Linked DNA regions of Homo sapiens. The protein of the gene in region 1 purifies or fractionates together with the protein of each later gene. This does not show direct contact. Each region holds a gene or a part of one and is shown on either strand. Other genes may lie near its edges.

The links.
Region 2: the proteins of ASIC2 (region 1) and PLD1 purify together in Homo sapiens (affinity purification with mass spectrometry; one large-scale study listed by BioGRID and IntAct). This does not show direct contact.
Region 3: the proteins of ASIC2 (region 1) and PLD2 purify together in Homo sapiens (affinity purification with mass spectrometry; one large-scale study listed by BioGRID and IntAct). This does not show direct contact.

What each region holds. Positions count from the first base shown.
Region 1 is NC_000017.11:33,290,403-33,294,754, forward strand, and holds the start of ASIC2 (acid-sensing ion channel 2), read right to left. Parts: upstream 2,894-4,352; 5' UTR 1,714-2,893; coding exon 1,006-1,713; intron 1-1,005. UniProt on the Homo sapiens protein: Forms pH-gated trimeric sodium channels that act as postsynaptic excitatory sensors in the nervous system. Upon extracellular acidification, these channels generate rapid, transient inward currents that fully desensitize.
Region 2 is NC_000003.12:171,800,472-171,804,117, forward strand, and holds part of PLD1 (phospholipase D1), read right to left. Parts: intron 1-3,646. UniProt on the Homo sapiens protein: Function as phospholipase selective for phosphatidylcholine. Implicated as a critical step in numerous cellular pathways, including signal transduction, membrane trafficking, and the regulation of mitosis.
Region 3 is NC_000017.11:4,820,409-4,823,944, forward strand, and holds the end of PLD2 (phospholipase D2), read left to right. Parts: intron 1-1,384; coding exon 1,385-1,499; intron 1,500-2,231; coding exon 2,232-2,456; 3' UTR 2,457-3,022; downstream 3,023-3,536.

The DNA.
Region 1 (4,352 bases):
CACCTAAGGGACATTTACACACGAATGGCTGGACAGGCATGCATCATGCTGGGGCCTGGCACCAGAACTCCTCCAAGGCAGACTGCACAAGGCAGATACCTTCTGTCCAACAGCTGCGTTATCCAGACCCACAGCGTGGGGGAACCGGCACAGCAAATGGTTTACAAACCCTAAGCACAGCTTCTCCTGGCCGCGGCTGTTTGCATCCACATGCCTGCTAGGATGCTTTCTCAACTCCGGAGCAATCCTCCAGACCAGAAGACCCACACTTACATTTTATGGGGGACGGAGGCCAGGTGAAGGGCCCAACCCTGGCGCACCACTGCTCAGTTCCGCTGGATGCTCAAGACTCCTGCATTTTGAAAAAGTAGCCAAAGCATGCTGCTGCCTCTCCCACCAAACTGTCTACAGCTTCAGTGTTGGTTTTCTGGGAGTTTCCTCACAAGTTCTCCTAGATTCTAAGTGTTTGGGAACTTTGAAGACATAAGCTGCTTCGGATCGTAGGCCTGCTTAGGGACTCTGCGTGATTCCCCTGATGATCCATTTTTCAAGCGCTTCCTTTTTTTTTTTTTTTTTTTTAAGAGCCGTCTATTGGTTTTCCCAAAGACAAGAAGTCCGCACTTAAGAGATCTACACTCCAAACACAGAGCAGTTTCTTGGAGTCCTGAGGGCCTGGAGTTGAGGTCGGGAAGAAGGAGGCTGACTAATATTCACAGACGGGACCATAAGGAGTAGAATGAGGGCTTTGGGGGCTGACACTGGAAGGAGGGGCTGGGACAGGGGAGCTCCCACTGGTGGGAGGCGACTCCTCCTACAGTTAAGTCCAAGTTCCCACAACCTGCAGGAGAAGACTCAGGGGACCCAAGAATGGGTTCTGCCTTGGCATCGTGGAGTGGTAACACTGCAAGAGGCCTGGGGACAGCCCCGAGGGGGCGGAACACCAGGCCTCCTGACTGCCGGGGAGTGGGGCGCAGAGGGAGCGGGTTCGCGCGGAGGGCAACTCACGGAGGAGAAGTTGTGCGGCCCGCAGAGCTCGCCGCGGTACTTGCAGGAGAGCAGCATGTCCTCCAGCTGGTGGCCCAGGCGGTCCATGAAGGCGGCGCTGATTCCCTCGAAGTGGCGCGGAGGCAGGAAGAGGCGGAAGTCCGCCAGCTTGCGGAACCACTGGCGGCGCGGCTCGTCGCCCCGCAGCAGCTCGCTGACAAGCGGGCGCGCGGTGCGGTTGGGCAGCAGCAGCCCGAGCCAGTGGCCGGCATAGTAGAGGTCCCCCTTGGAGAGGCGCGGGAAGCGCAGCGGGTTGTTGTTGCACACAGTGACGGCGGGGAAGGGTAACTGGCGGCTCCACTCGCGGTGCACCCGCGTGTGTGACGGGAAGCTGAGCCAGTAGAGCAAGCGGTTCGAGGACCAGGACAGCAGCAAGCCGAAGGATGTACAGAAGGCCAGCACCCACAGCGCCCGCCGCTGGAAGGAGCCCCCAGCCGCCGTGCGCCCGGCACACATGTGCCGCAGCCCGTGCAGTTTAGCGCGGCTCAGCGATGGCCGCCCCCTGCGGGCGACCCCTGGCCCCTGCAGCGCCCGCTCGCCGCCTCTGCCGCCCCCGGGCTGCCCGGCAGCCGCCAACGCCGCGGGCGCCGGCTCCTCGCGGGCCATGCGGAAGCGTCCCGGGCCGGTGAGCGCGGCTGCGGGCAGCCCGGCTCCGCCAATCCGGCTCATTCATTCAGCCCGCGGCTGGCGGCAGCGGCGGCGGCCCCGGCCGGGCGGAGCCGCCATGGGAGTCCGCAGCAGCAGTGGAAGCAGCAGCAGCGGCAGCCGCGCGCAGCCCGCGCCAGGGAAGCGTGCGCCCGAAAGGAGCTCCGGTGGCGCGGCATGCCCGCCCGGCGCCGCCGCTGCCGCCTCCGCGGGCGCCCGCCCGGGGCTGAGCGCCGCCTCAGCCCGCAGCCCCTGGCAGTGGCCTCTCCCGAGCGCCTCCCAGGCTTTCCCGGCCCCTGGTCTTCCTGGAGGATGCCCGGCGCCCGGCACTACTTCTGGAGGGGTCCCACTGGGAGCCGCCTCTCCAGTCCCTGGGTGCTGCGCCCGCCTTCCCTCGTCCTGGACCTCGGGGGACCCTGAGCCGAGTCCCCCCTGCCCCGCCTAACCCCAGCTTTTACGCTGGTCCTGGGAGAAGGGCCACTCGGCCACCATGCCTGATCTGGACATCCCCAGGGACCCCACCAGCCCGGCCCGTAGCCCAGCGGTGCTGGGACACGGGAGAGAAGGCGCCAAGGAACGAGCGCCCCCAGAGGCGCACCGCGGCTCCTGGCTGGGCGGGCGGGGTGGGTGTGTACGGGGGTGAGTGGTCGCCTTGCCGGCTGCCGCCTTCTTTCCCTTCCCCTCCAGGACCCTTCCTTGTTACTGCTCCCTGGGCTGCGCTCGGCAGAGACCTGCTTAGGCTTCCCCAAGTCCTGCGCCTAAGTCCTGCCAGGCGCCCGCTCTCGCCTGGGGCTGAGAGCTTCTCAGGGCGTCCTGCGGGAGGCTGTTCGCCGCCGGGGTCCTTCAAGGATGCTAGCCGCAGGGAAGTGTCGCTTCTCGCCTCGGCTCTCCCAGGTGCCTCGCGTCTCCAGAAAAGCCCAGCCTTGCTGTCTCTCGCGTCTTCTCTCTGCCCCCGCGGCGACAAGAGCTGGGGACTGCGGGGACCCGCCAACACCTCCCGGGGGTGACCCGGACTCGCTGCTCCGCGCGCCCTTCTCCTCTCGAGACTCCGAGCTCGCGGTGGCCGTGACGCCGGCTAAGCTCCTTCCCCGGTTGCCCGGGAGAACCCTCTTTGGGCCCCAGGCGAACTTGGGCAGCGGCCGCGCGACGCTGGCGCGGCTGGGCTCCGAGCACCTGCTCCTCAGCTCGCTGGCCCCGCGGCTCCGGGCGGGCGGGGCGGCGGCGGCCGTGAGCGCCGTGCGCTCCTGGAGACGCGGTGCTGACGCGCCCGGCTCCTCCTCGCTGCATTTTAATTCCTGGCCACTGTGGCCGCTGCACACCGAGCGGGAAGCCTCTTGCTGGAGTCGGCCGGGTGCGGGGGTGGGGTGTGGTGGGGAGCGGGATGGGGATGCGCTGTACAGATGTGCTCAGGTGTATGGGCTTGTGGGAGAGATAAGTAGTATAACCATTGTGCTGATGTGGCCCCAGTGTAGACAGGGGTGAGAGGACTCCTGAGGGTGTGAGATGGGCTGTAGAGAGAGCGAGTTGCTGTGTAGTGTGGGCATTTGAACACGATTGCGAGTGTGGTGCCAAGTATTGGGTGTGCGTAGGATGTGCATTGTGTATGTGTGAATGGGCATTTCTGTGAAACTCTTGAATGTGAGCATGTCTGCGGGTGGCGTGCTGTGGCCATTAGAGTGTGGTGCATGCAGGATGTAGTGTCTATGGTGACGTGTATGTTCCGTGTGTGTATGTGTGCACTTAGTGAGTCCTGGGTTTGAAATGCATGTGTTGATGTGTGGATGGATATCAGGGTTTCTAGATGTGGTGTGTGGTTGGTGTGTTTTGTGTGTGTGTGTATGTGCATGTGTTGTATGTAATGAGTATGTGTGTTGAGGCATTGCGAGCAGGGTAGGCTCAGTGCGACAATCCTCCCCTCAGCCTCTTAGGGACATCCCATGTGTGTCCCAGCCCCTTCCCTGGAAGTGCCTACTGCTCAGCCCTGGCCCAGTCTGCCAAGCACAGCTCTCCAAGAGGGTGGGAAGGGGGAGTAGGACTTCCAGGGACAGGAGACTCCATCTTTCCCATTCCCCTTGCTGGGACAGGGAACACTTGGAGCCCCATTACTCCATGAGATAAAGGGGTTTTCCAGACATTATCCGGAGAGTAGAATTTGGTGGTGGAGGCAGTGTGAAGGGACTCCAAGGGTGGGAGGATGCTCCAGTGGAAGAAGGACCAACGTGTGTATCCTTTGGGGAGAGGAGGCTTGGGGAAGCAGAGATTTGGGTGTGGAGAGGAGTTTTACCGTCTTTGTAATGATGAATTAGGGGCAATTTGGCCAGATCTGTTGAATGAGCTGTGGGTTTCCAAGCAGGAGAGAAGCAGTGCTGGGATGGGCTTTCCCTCCCCACTGACCTGAGGGCACCCTTACAGCGTGATGACTCCCTGCATCTGGTCTCTGGAGAAGAGGACCTCTGAGCCCCTCATTTCCCACTCACCCACATACATACATCCACACAGTCACACATGTACAAGCACACATATACACAAACACACACACACACTACACATACAACACACATATACATGAACATACATGTATACCAACATATACACTTAAATGCATATATACCCAATGCATACTGCATACATACATACACACAACACACATACATATACACAAC
Region 2 (3,646 bases), on another chromosome or scaffold:
GTGCTGAGATTACAGTCATGAACCACCGTGCCTGGCCCAAACATAATTTTTAAAAGGCAAATATACAATAGTATGTTTTCTAAATGAGATGCTCTGATTAAATGTGGTATTTAGAGATGCTCCAGAAGTCTGCTGTCTACATCCCTGGACCCAATCTCTACTCCAATGCCAGCCACCTGTCTTAGTCCACTCAGGCTACTGTAACAAAATACCATAGACTAGGTGGCTTATAAACAACAGAAACTTACTTCTCACAGTTCTGGGGGCTAGGAAGTCCAAGATCAAGGTGCTTGCAGATTTGGTGTCTGGTGAAGGCCTGCTTCCCCAGAGGCTGCCTTTTCACTAACCCGTCACTTAGTGAAGAGAGTCAGAGGTCCCTCTCTGGCCTCTTTTATAAAGGCACTAATCTCATTGATAAGGGCAGAGCCACCATGGCCTAATCATCTCCTAAAGGCCTCACCTCCTAATACCATCACCCCTTGGGGTGAGGATTTCAACATATGAATTTGAGGAAGACAAATATTCATACCACTGTACTGCCCTGAAACAAAGCAGTTTGAAAATCACTATCAAGGAAAATTGGAACATACAATCATTATAAAAGCCAGCCCATTTCAGGAGGCCTGGCAGGATTCTGCTGCACAATTCAGTCCTGCCTTTGGATGACTGCATTAGACTATAAGCTGTGGGGCTGGAACCACATTTTAGACTCACTAGCCTAGGCCTAGTACTGTGTTAGCACCAAAAAGACTCTGTGCTTGATAAATTCTTCAACACCATCCTGAAGAGGGGCTATTGCAAATACAGGATGAAAGCTTTCACTGCCAACTTTATTGGCCTTCCAGGCAATGGATCTGCAAAAATTACTTCACTGTCAGTCAAACCTACCCCGTGTATCTGGTGAGATCAGACAGGACGAACATATCCAACATGCGTTTCTGGCATGCCTTTCTTTTTGTTTCTTGTTTTTGTTTTGAGACGGAGTCTCGCTCTGTCACCCAGGCTGGAGTGCTATGGCACGATCTCAGCTCACTGTAACCTCCACCTCCTAGGTTCAAGCAATTCTCCTGCCTCAGCCTCCCAAGTAGCTAGGATTACAGGCACTCACCACCACACGCAGCTAATTTTTGTATTTTTAGTAGAGATGAGGTTTCACCGTGTTGGTCAGGCTGGTCTTGAACTCCTGTCCTCAAGTGATCTACCTGCCTCAGCCTTCCAAAGTGCCGGGATAACAGGCATGAGCCACTGTGCCCAGCCTATGGCCTGCCTTTCTTACAAAGTGATACACATTTCCCTAGTCCCCATGACACTACCAAAAACCACCCCGGTAGAACTCAAAAAAGGTAGGAAACAGGAGTTTCCCCAAATCAGTCTCATTTATGTTACGATACTTTCATGTTTAATCGATCCATTCTATCACAGATTATACACCCACATGACAGATGCAACTGAAACAAGTTTTTGCAAGCTCTCTGAAAACGACAGGAGGCATTCACATAGAAAGCTACAGATTTTATTTCTCATCAGTTGAGAGCAGCACTTTGTTCCAAATTGCAGTAATATCTCAGCAATGAATCATTGTCATAAAAACAGCAACATCTGTGAGGTCAGAAAAGAACAATTAGGAAAACAAATGAATCCCTTGGGAACCAGGGTTCACACTAACATCATATATTTATATAACAACTTGGAAAGGTAGTCATTCAACAAGTAGTTAGTGAGCACCTACTACATGTCAGGAAAGTCCCTACTCTCATAAAGCTTAAGTTCTTGTGTAGAAAACCCAGTAAGCAAGAAAAAGAGAAAAGAAAAAGAATTTCAGATAGTGGTGAATCCTAGCATGAAAATAACCCTAGGTGAAAGGCTGGAACAGGATCAGGTAGCAAGCAATGCAATGTGGACTGTGAAGTGAGGCAGCTTTCAATGGTCAGGGAAAAAACCTTTCCAAGGAGATAACATTTGACCATTTTGTCATTGATCCAAATGACAAAAAAGAAGGAAGCCATGCAAAGACTTAGGAGAAGTGTGCTCCAGGCAGAGGGAATAGCATGATTAAAAGGCCCTAAGATGGAACAAAGCTTGATGTGTTCTAAAAACAACCTTCCTAACAAACTCTGGAGATAGGCAACTGTAGTTCAGAAAGGTGAGAAACAAGTTGATCAAGGTTACACAGACGCTAAAGTAGAAATGAAACTTAGCACACCTGACTCCTCTGATAGTCTCCCTGCAACACGCTAGCTGCCTTCCTAGTTAGAAACCCAGGCTCCAATGAATGAGCATGAGAAATCAGGCCAATGGGGCAAAGAGTGGCCCCTGATTACCAAGTTTCACAGGATCAGAATTTGAGTTCAAACATAAAAATCGAGGCTACCATACAATGTGGCCAGGGTCCAGCAGCCCAGATGACCTGATTCTAAGCAAGGTACACAGGTGCCAGGGCTGGAGAGCAAGAGCCCACAAGAGGGGCCCAGAAGGCACATGGGGTGATCATCAAACTCCCAAGGGAACTTACAAAATACTATTTTGAGTCCCATTCCTCAAGAATCTAAATTTATTACATATGTGATAGAACCTGGAAATTTGTATTTTAAGAAGTTCCCAGGTGATTTTGTTTAGCCAGACTTTGGAACTACTGTGATGGAGAAGGAGGGAAGGCCAGCTCTTCAGGAGGTTGCAGGGAGAATTCTATCTCTACAAAAGGAAGAATCAAGGGTTAAATTGAATGCAGTTGAGACTTGTACCAGACCAGATCATAGGCACAGAGAGATAAGAACATTGCATAACTAAGCGTATTCCTTTCTCCCCAACCACATCCCCAAATTCAGAATCACTGTGACGGTTGACAGAAAAGTGCAGGAGAAATCTCTTTGGTCATAATGAGAAAGAAAGATGGGGTGGAGAAGCTCGGATATACCCCCTGGGCAAAGCCAGTGGTGTGCTGAGAAATGCTTAGCAACCAGGTCCGGGTGGAGGAGAAACCCTAACTGTAGTGTTTGCCAATTTCGATGGTGTAAATATTCCTGGAAGGCCAAGGCAGGAGGATCACTAGGTCAGGAGTTCAAGACCAGCCTGACCAACATGGTGAAAGCCTGTATCTACTAAAAATACAAAATAAGCCTGGCATGGTGGTATGCACCTGTAATCCCAGCTACTTGGGAGGCTGAGGCAGGAGAATCGCTTGGACCTGGGAGGCGGAAGTTGCAGTTAGCTGAGATAGCACCATTGCACTCCTGCCTGGACAACAAGAGTGAAATTCTGTCTCAAAAAAAGAAATTCCTATCATGGCCGCTTCCAAGTTACCAACATGATATCACTAGAACATACAGTTTGGGGAAGACGTGCAATAGTTACAGTATTTTCACCATATAGAAATAATAAACATAAATAGCATAGAGAGCAATAAATTTAGTAAAATAATTAGTAAGTCAGAGGTGTGGGTATTTATTATCTTTTAAAAATAGTTTTAACATCACAGTGATGTTAGTGCCAAAAATATACTTCATCCCCAAATTCTGTACTCCTACCTTACCTCTTACCTCTTTTTATTCCAAAGCAGGAATAATGGTGACATTTAAAAAACAATATCTAAAACATCATCTTCATTTTTTTTTCCTATTCTTAGCCCCTTTGGTTAAATTTCTCACTT
Region 3 (3,536 bases), about 28 Mb from region 1:
AGGCGCCCACCACCACGCCCAGCTAATTTTTGTATTTTTAGTAGAGACAGGGTTTCGCTGTGTTGGCCAGGCTGATCTTGAACTCCTGACCTCAGGCTTCGGCCTCCCAAAGTGCTGGGATTACAGGCATGAACCACCGCCCCTGGCCAAAAAAAAAAAAAAATCTTTTTTTTTTTTCTTTTTTTTTGAGAGGGAGTCTCACTGTCGCCCAGGCTGGAGTGCAGTGGCGCGATCTCGGCTCACTGCAGGCTCCGCCGCCCAGGGTTCATGCCATTCTCCTGCCTCAGCCTCCCGAGTAGCTGGGACTACAGGCACCCGCCACCTCGCCCGGCTAATTTTTTGTATTTTTAGTAGAGACGGGGTTTCACCGTGTTAGCCAGGATGGTCTAGATCTCTTGACCTCGTGATCTGCCCGCCTCCGCCTCCCAAAGTGCTGGGATTACAGGCATGAGCCACCACGCCCGGCCAAAAAAAAAAAACTTTTGTGTTTTGTTTGTTTGTTTGTTTTCTTTTTGAGACGGAGTCGCTCTGTCACCCACGCTGGAGTGCAGTGGCGCGATCTCGGCTCACTGCAAGCTCCGCCTCCCGGGTTCATACCATTCTCCTGCCTCAGCCTCCCGAGTAGCTGGGATTACAGGCGCCCGCCACCATGCCCAGCTAATTTTTTGTATTTTTAGTATAGATGGGGTTTCACCGTGTTAGCCAGGATGGTCTCGATCTCCTGACCTCGTGATCCGCCCATCTCAGCCTCCCAAAGTGCTGGGATTACAGGCATGAGCCACCGTGCCCGGCCAAAAAAAAAATCTTTTAAAAGTAATTTTTTTCACAGGTTCTGAGGATTGGGGAAAGAACAGAAAAAGAAGAAAATTTAAAATAAAAATAATTTTTTAAAGCATCAAGGTAGTCATCAAAGTCAAGACAAATCAGAACTCTGTTGGCTTCTTTTACACTTATTTTACTATTTTATATTGCATTTATTTTGTTTTTGTTTGTTTGTTTGTTTTGAGATAGGGTCTTGCTCTGTCACCCAGCTAGAGTTCAGTGGCGTTACCACGGCTCACTGCAACCTCGACTTCGCCAGCTGAAGTGATCCTCCCACTTCAGCCTCCCAAGTAGCTGGGACTATAGGCACATGCCACCGTGCCTGGCTAATTTTTGTATTTTTTTGTAGAGATGGGGTTTTGCCATATTGCCCAGGCTGGTCTTGAATTCCTGAGCTCAAGCAATCCACCTGCCTCATCCTCCCAAAGTGCTGGGAATACAGGCGTGAGCCACCGCACCCAGCCAATTTTGAATTACCTGAGTAGGGACAATGTAACTTTTCTGGTACTCAGGTTCTCTAAGGATCTTAATCTGGCCCTGCTGGGACCCCTTTCTCCTATAGTGTGATTCTTGGAGCAAATACCCGGCCAGACTTGGATCTCCGAGACCCCATCTGTGATGACTTCTTCCAGTTGTGGCAAGACATGGCTGAGAGCAACGCCAATATCTATGAGCAGGTGGGAACTTGGGAGGGGTGGGGGAGAGTGGCCTGGGGAAATTTGTGGATTATCCTGCTCAGGGTAGGATGGAGAGAAGCGCCACCATACAGTCATTATTGGAAGGGGGATGAGGGCCTGGGGACATTTGCTATCAAGAGATTTAGTGGCCCAGGCCGGGTGCAGTGGCTCATGCCTGTAATCCCAGCACTTTGGGAGGCCAAGGCCCGGTGGATCACCTGAGGTCAGGAGTTTGAGATCAGCCTCCCAACATGGCAAAACCCCATCTCTACTAAAAATACAAAAAAATTAGCTAGGTGTGGCTGGGAGGCTGAGGCAGGAGAATCTCTTGAACTCAGGAGACAGAGATTTCAGTGAGCCGAGATCACGCCATTGCACTCCAGCCACCTGGGCAACAAGAGCAAAACTCTGTCTCAAAAAAAAAAAGTACAAAAGTTAGCCGGGCATGGTGGTGGGCACCTGTAATCCCAGCTACTCAGGAGGCAGAGGCAGGAGAATCACTTGAACCCGAGAGGTGGAGATTGTAGTGAGCCGAGATCGCACCATTGCACTCCAGCCTGGGCAAAAAGAGTGAAACTCCGTCTCAAAAAAAAAAAGAGAGAGAGAGTTAGTGGCCCAGGGTCAACGGGGGGTATGGAGAGATGGTATGGGGGAAGGGGTCTAGCCTAGTTGGACTTAGATTGTTGGGAGAGTCTCCCCAAGCCTTACTGGCGTCCATGCCCCCGCCCACAGATCTTCCGCTGCCTGCCATCCAATGCCACGCGTTCCCTGCGGACTCTCCGGGAGTACGTGGCCGTGGAGCCCTTGGCCACGGTCAGTCCCCCCTTGGCTCGGTCTGAGCTCACCCAGGTCCAGGGCCACCTGGTCCACTTCCCCCTCAAGTTCCTAGAGGATGAGTCTTTGCTGCCCCCGCTGGGTAGCAAGGAGGGCATGATCCCCCTAGAAGTGTGGACATAGTTGAGGCCCCCGTCAGGGAGAGGTCACCAGCTGCTGTGCCCCACCACGTCTGGCTCCCTGCCCCTTAACCCCAAGGACTGAGGGCAGTGCCCTTTGAGATCTGGGGAGGCAGGCATTCCTGAAGGGAACTAGAGGTGTTACAGAGGACCCTTACGTGAGAAATAGCTGAAAAGGGCACTCCCAACCCTGGGCTGGGGAGGAGGAGAGAGTCCCAGAGCTCATCCCCCCTGCTGCCCAGTGCAAACCACTTCTCCATGCTGCAAAGGAGAAGCACAGCTCCTGCCAGGGTGAGCAGGGTCAAGCCTCTTATTCCAGGAGAAGGGGGCTCTGCCCCAGGCCCTACTACCCATTGTTCCCTTCCTCTTCCTGCCCTTGAACCCCCTCCCTGTCCCAGGGCCCTCCCAGCCCATTGCTGCCAAGGTGGAGGGAAGGATAAAGCCACTTCTGGCTTCAGCCCCCACCAGGGGAAGGAAGGAGGGCACATTAACTCCCTCCACCAGCCTGCTGACAGACACTAACTTTGTATCCGTTCAATAAGCATTTCATAAATAAAGGTGTAGAAAAGGTTCATGCGTCTTCCTTGGAGGAACTAACTGCTCGTTCCAGCCTCCCGTTCCTGCCCACACGGGGCACCAGTCCCCTTCACCTTATCTCCACCCTCCTCCACTCTCCTCTCTCCACCTCTGTTCTACCTATCTGTGGCTTCGGGAGCTCGGTCACCTGGCTCCTGAGAGGAGAAGGTGTTGACACAGTGCCGCCTGGGTAGAAGGACGGGCAGGGCCCAACCAGGGCACCTGGAGAACTGTGGAGCTGCTATCACAACCGCAGGTGAGGGAGATGCTCTGAGAAGGACCTAGAGAGGCTGCCTCTTGTTCAAGCAACAGCCCTGGTAGAGGCTTAATGAAGGCCCTGTGGGAGTGGTTGAGGGTATAGGCTTAAGGTCAGGAAGACCTGGACCCAAATCCTGGACTCCTCAATGAGAAGCTAGGTGAACTTGTCAAGTCATTCACTTCTCTGGGCCTCAGTGGTCCCCGCTGGGAAATGGGAATAATACTTACATGACTAGCTTGCTGTCAAGAC